Linked DNA regions of Homo sapiens: region 2 is linked to region 1. The links come from fine-mapping of genetic effects on plasma protein levels. Region 1 holds a variant in brackets. A gene starts in the other region. All regions are shown on their reverse strands.

What was found. PIP is the chance, under the fine-mapping model, that this variant and not a neighbour inherited with it causes the effect. Protein levels are from antibody-based Olink assays in UK Biobank. Linkage for the fine-mapping came from a reference panel and not from the study's own genotypes, which makes the PIPs less certain.
Region 2: SCGB3A2 starts here. The variant in region 1 is fine-mapped to the plasma level of the SCGB3A2 protein (UK Biobank, PIP 0.93).

Annotation. Positions count from the first base shown.
Region 1 is chr2:63,049,233-63,052,138 of GRCh38, reverse strand. It overlaps OTX1 (orthodenticle homeobox 1), which reads right to left and starts at 1,309. Exons shown (of 5, transcript NM_014562.4): 1 at 1,242-1,309; 2 at 822-890. RefSeq lists a silencer at 1,284-1,943 and enhancers at 2,060-2,807, 2,808-2,906, 2,171-2,906. The variant G/C (reference allele first, on the strand shown) is at 1,431.
Region 2 is chr5:147,877,297-147,880,202 of GRCh38, reverse strand. It overlaps SCGB3A2 (secretoglobin family 3A member 2), which reads right to left and starts at 1,492. Exons shown (of 3, transcript NM_054023.5): 1 at 1,345-1,492. The coding sequence starts at 1,399.

The sequences.
Region 1 (2,906 bases):
AGCGCGCACCCGGCCTTCTCTCTGCCCAGTCTGGGCTGCGGACCGCAGGGTCCCAGCAGGGGGTGAAGGGTGACTGGCCTAGCACCTCAAAGGGTCTCGGGGATTTGTGAAGCCGGAGGGCAGCAAGTCGCGTGCTGCCATCCTTGTAGCTGAACCCGCGGCCCCAGGACACGGTCGAGAACAGAGAACTAGGCCTCAGCGGCGTAGCCCACGCAGACCCGAGCTGGGAGGTCGAAGCCTCGCCCCCGCCGCTGCCGGGAACCCGGGGTGCCACTCTCAGGGGTCAGGGAGGGGCGCTGGAAACTGGGCCTGGGGCCCTGGGGGGCCATCGCTACACCCCGCTTAGCGGGATCGCTGTGAAGCAAGCCAGGGACTCGGGCTAGGACGTTCAAGGAGAGAAGTTAGAGCTAAAGAAGCTCCCCCCAGCCCCGTTCCCGCCCCCGTCTTCTGGGACCCAAGACCTGGGCTGAGGGAGTCCAGCTTGTAGGAAGGGGACCGGAAGGGAAGCAGCCAGGGCTCTAGGGCCGAAGGAAAATGGGACTCAAAGCTGCGACGGCTTTGCGAAGCTGCAGCGTGAGTTTTCAAAGACTTTCTCCAAACTTAGCACTTCAGCTTGGTTACTTCGGAGGAGGCGGGGGAGGGGGCTGCGGGCCGCGACAGCGCCCCGGGGTCCTCGGCTCACCAAGAGGGGAGCCAGGCCGCTCCCACAGCCCCGACCACCTGCTGGGGACCGGGGAAGCCGGGATCCATTTGAGGAGGGGGAGATAAGGGTAACCAACGCGCTCCCGGAGTCCGGGGTGGCCCCGCGGCTTTCTCCTTACCTGCCCTCAGCTGCCGGGGCCGTTCACCATCTACCTGGATCTCTCACAGAGACCCGCCGGGCAGCCAACCTGCAAAACAGAGCAGCACTGGAATTACCCTGGCGGCTGGTCTAGGACCCCCAGGTTTCTTTCTTTTCCCAACTTCCTTCTTCCCACCTCTATCTTTTTTTTCAATGGCTTTGTGCGTGTCCTTCTGGGTTTCACTTTATTGCACAGACACTTTGTTTGCTAAGCCCCACACGTTCTCAGGACATTGCCTCGCCTGGGATCGCGCCGAGGGGCCGCAAGGGGGGGAATTCGAGGGGCAGAGTTGGGAGGTGGCTCGGCGTTGCCGCGGCACTCCCGGTGCAACGTGGAGGCAGTGGGGACTGGGAAGTCCTGCAGAGTCACTTTGCAAACTAAATAAATCAAGCGATTTACCTTGTCGGAGTGGCTTGTCTTGCTCGGTTGTTTAGGTGATTGGAAATGTAGCCTGATGAAGATTGATCACCTTTCTACTGCCCTCCCCGGGTATGTGAACGCGAGGCGAGTGCGTAACGGGGCTAGGCCGCCAATCGGGGGCCCCGCGCGGGCTGAGTGACAGGGAGCCGGGCAATGGCTGCGCGAGCC[G/C]GGGGTTACCTCCGCGCGCCCCCGCCCTCCCCCGCCCCCCACACCCCGCCCTCCCCGCCCTCCCGCCCCGCCCCGGTCGCGCGCTAACTCCGGGACTCGGCTGGCAAAAGCGGCGCAGAGCTAGGCGAGGAAGGCGAGCGGAGAGCCCGAGTCCTGGCCGCGGAGGGGGCCGTGGGTCTCCAGGCCTGCCCTGGGCGCCCCCGCCCTTCTCGCGCTCTCGGCGCTCCGGAGGGAGTGGCAGGGAGGAGGCGAGGTGCTGGAGAACCGGTTCCTTCGCTCTCCCGCGCGCTACAGGGCTCAGCCGCTCGGGTGTGGGCGCCAGGACCCGGGGGCGGCGGGCTGGAGGAGCCCGGGCCTCGGCCCCTCTCCCGGCGCCGCGGGCCCCAGCGTTTTCTTCCCCGGCGCCGCCACCTGAGACCGACGCCGCGGGCTGCTCGTGCCGGCGCAGGCTACTTTGCAGAGCGCGGGAGCAGCTCCGGGCGTGCAGATCTCTCCTCGGCCCCTCCGGACTCTCGCGCCTGGGAAGAGCACCCACTGGGAGGGCGCCGCCACTTACCTGCTTGCTCGTCGGCATCTCCCGGGGTTCCAGGTCCCCACCAAGGGTGTTTGCAAGTCTTAAGCGCTTCTACTGAAACGTTGGAGCCCAGCGTCCTCTTCCCCTCACACGTACACCCTACTTCTTAATTGAAACATTTTGATAGGAAAGTTTCTTTTTCGCTCTTTCTCTCTCTTTCTTAGACTGCCTCTAACAGGGACTTTTTGATGGAAAATGTGGCCACAGACCCCTGCCCTCAACTTTTTTCCACATGCTGCGTAAGGATCCTCCTTGAGGCGATTTCCCCGGATTGTTCGTACGGGCGAAGCCCATTTCCCACCCGAAAAAACTTCCCAAACACGTCTACCTGGGTGGACTTTTAAAAGTGCAAAAAAGAGTTTTCGTTCCAACTCTAAGCTAGGCGAATCTTTTAAATGGCACCTCCTCCTGAAAATTAGGCACTTTATTCCCTTTCGAGGAATTTCTACCCCTTGTTTCTAATCTCCCCCACTCCCCCACCCCGACAGGCGGGGTAAAAAGTTTGCACAGGATTAAGTGTGAGGGCAAGTCAAGGAGCCTCCAGGCGCATCGCAGTGGGGAGCACTCGCGCTGCCCGGGCTGCGGGGTCGGGCGCCGAGAGCGGACCGGGCGCTGGGTGAGGAGGAGGAGAACGAAGGGGGAGCCCGCTGAGTGAAAAGGGGCCGCGGCCGCCGCTCATCAAAGTGCTTCCCCCTCCCCCAAGCGACACTTTCCTTTGGAGTCCGAATAAAATACGGTAACAGAATATGATGGAGGGCACACTGTTTCCTTAACTGCTTCTCAAAGGACCCGGGAGATCTTCTTAGGACCTTTAATAAGGCTTTGGTCGGTTCTTTTGTTGATCTCTCAAAATCAACTCCTTCTAATTGAAGTTGGAGCTGAAAGCGAGCTAATGTTCAAAG
Region 2 (2,906 bases), not on the chromosome of region 1:
TTTTACAAAAACATGTGCAGATATATAAATGCACACATGCATGTGAGCACACACGTAAGAACACACATCCTCCTACTGGCTAAGACCTGCCATAGTTTATTTTCCTTTGGAAACCTATTATTTCCCCATTCAAATTATTAAAATGGAGCCTGTATATATTTTTTTAAATTTTCAATCACCTATTGTCCCTCCAAAATTCTCACCCAGAGGGGGCGGTATTTATTTTCCCCACCTCCTTTCTGCTGCCACTTTGCCCATAGATACCTGTCCCTGGACATTAGAGAACAGTGAAATATCCAAAACTGGTGAAGTTACAAATTCCTTCAGAAATTCAATAAACATCAAAAGCCAAAGTTGCCATTGTAGGTGTGGGCGGCAATCAATTTTTCATTATTAATCTCCATACTTCTTATTTCAGACATTTTGGTAAATATCTTCTCTGTATGTGTTTACAGCTTCCTGGGAGAAGATCTTCAAAGCCTTCTGTTCTCTCAATGAGCAGTGGCTATCATGAAATCTCTTTTTCCCATGTGCCCACACTGTCTTCCTGATAGTTACAATGATTCCTTCCAAAAAAATAAATCAGTTCCCATTCTCCTCCAAGAAGCCAGCTTCTATACCCTTACCTGAAAATTAAACTAATCACCCACCAATACACTAAAAGAGTTCTATCTGGATATCTCACAGTACGTTTACAGTAGTCTAGAATTATAGTAACTTAGGCAGAAGCCCTATCTATCCTACCAGAGTAGCACCTTAAGAACAATATTTATGACTGCTTCATGTCTAAATCTTCCAATGCCTATCCAGTGCCCAACAAATTGTAGCCATTCAATAAATATCCATTGAGTGGATAAACAGATGAATGTAGCTATCTCAGGAGAACCAAGCTAGCAAATTGGATAACTGGAGATGATAGCAAGAATGACTCCATATAGTTCAAAAGCACAAAAGAAATTATAAAGTCAAATTTTAACTCAAAATTGAGGAAAATAAGAAAAACGAATGGTGACCAATATCCAGCAGTGAAATGTGCTTTGTTGACCCTCCGTGGAAGTTGGCTAACTTCCTATGTAGGATGTATTAGAATACTTATATTGGGCTAGAGCTTAGATGGTGGGGATCTGAAATACTTTCCAACATCACCATTTTCTGTGATTCCAAAACTTCTTCCAACCCTGCAAATATGTGCAATTATTATGTGTCAGTTAAAAGTAAAATAAAAAAAAATACAATTCCTACCACCATATTCCACTGTCAGTGAGGCAAGGCTTACTAGTTGTGCTCTTATTAACAGAAAAGTAAAGAAATGTCACATATTCCAGATGTATTCCAGTTACTTACCAGAGTAACTACAAAGGCTGATGGTCACCAGCAGGAAGATAGTTACCAGCTTCATGACAGTTATCTGGGATATTTTTCAGGAGTTTAAAAATCAGAAAAATCTAGCAAAATCCACCAAGCCAGTGGTTCCACTTGCCATACAAAGTGTGATGGCTGCTTTTGCACACACATATTTATATGCCCATTGAGGACCTGAATTCTAGTCCCTACCACTTGACTCACCCCACCAAAGAAAGGGATAAATGTTATGTTTTCTCACCAAACAATTTGGAGGGTTTTCCACTTCCCCGTGTGTTCCCATGAGAAACAAAGCTCTACAGTACAGCATTCTCAAGTACCTCTTGCATAAACCCTTGCACAGAAATAAAAGCAGAAGGCAAAGAGCCCAACGAATCCTTCTCCTGGAAGAACATTGAAAAGAAGTGAAGAATTTATATTTGGATTAGAAGGAGTGTTTTCCTCTGGTTTTCTACATTTTTCCCCAGTTTTCTAATCATTTAAAGTTTGGAGAATCACATTAGCTGATGAACTACCCAGTTGTGAAAGCAATCTGGAGGCCACTCTGGTATAATACAGAGTCAGCTTCATGACATTTAGTGCCACATTTCTCTGGAATTCACCTGCCCCCAGCCCACTCACACATCTACTATGGTAAGATTTTCACACCTCTGTTACCTTTTCCAGTGTCAGTTACTTTGAGTATGTTCAGAGCATGTCTTCTCTGAGCCTTTGGATAGAATAATAGGCTTAAGATCTAAAATCAGAGTGTCTTTTGAAAAACCTGGGATTCAATTTTCACTGTTTGTGTAATCTTGGATTTGACATTTTTAATCTAGGATATTGGTCCTCTCATCTAAAATGGGAACATAAATAACACAACCAACCATAAGGTGTGTAGCTTGGGGAAAAAATTGTTTTTGCAAGATTCTTTGGCAATCAAATCCGATAAAATCATTCAAAAATACGTAATTGTAAGGTACTGGCTACAGGAGTAGTAATTTGTTTCCAAGGCTGTCTTTCTGGATCCAGGGTTCAGCCACAGGACCTCAGGACAACTTCATTTGTGAGCAGAAGTCCTGGAGTTCTTTGGGGCATCGAGTGGGCCCGACATGCAAGGAAGAGGGTAAGAAAGAACCATGAAGGGGTGAAATAGAAAGCGGAGTCCATATGGGCACAGGACCAGCTCAGGGCTCCCCGGCCACGTGGTACTGCTGGCTCCAGCCATTCCCACCACCAAAGTGGAACCCAGAAAATTTTGAGAAAACACACCTTAAGATGTAAGGCCAGAGGTTGGGGCTTTATTTGTCCTCATCTGAGGGTGTGGTATTGTAATGAAGATCTAATAAAATTATGCAGACAGAGCATTCTGCTATGCCAAACCAAAATTAATATCTAATTTATGTCACATTTTACTAATTTTTATGTTACCATGTTGTAACTGTCATTTCTTTATCTTTCTGCTACTTTATAAACTACTTTATAAACTACATGAAAGACACCATGAATGCCTGCCATGCACCTCAATCCTGCCACTTCTCCTTCTTTCTCTACCAGTACTGCTT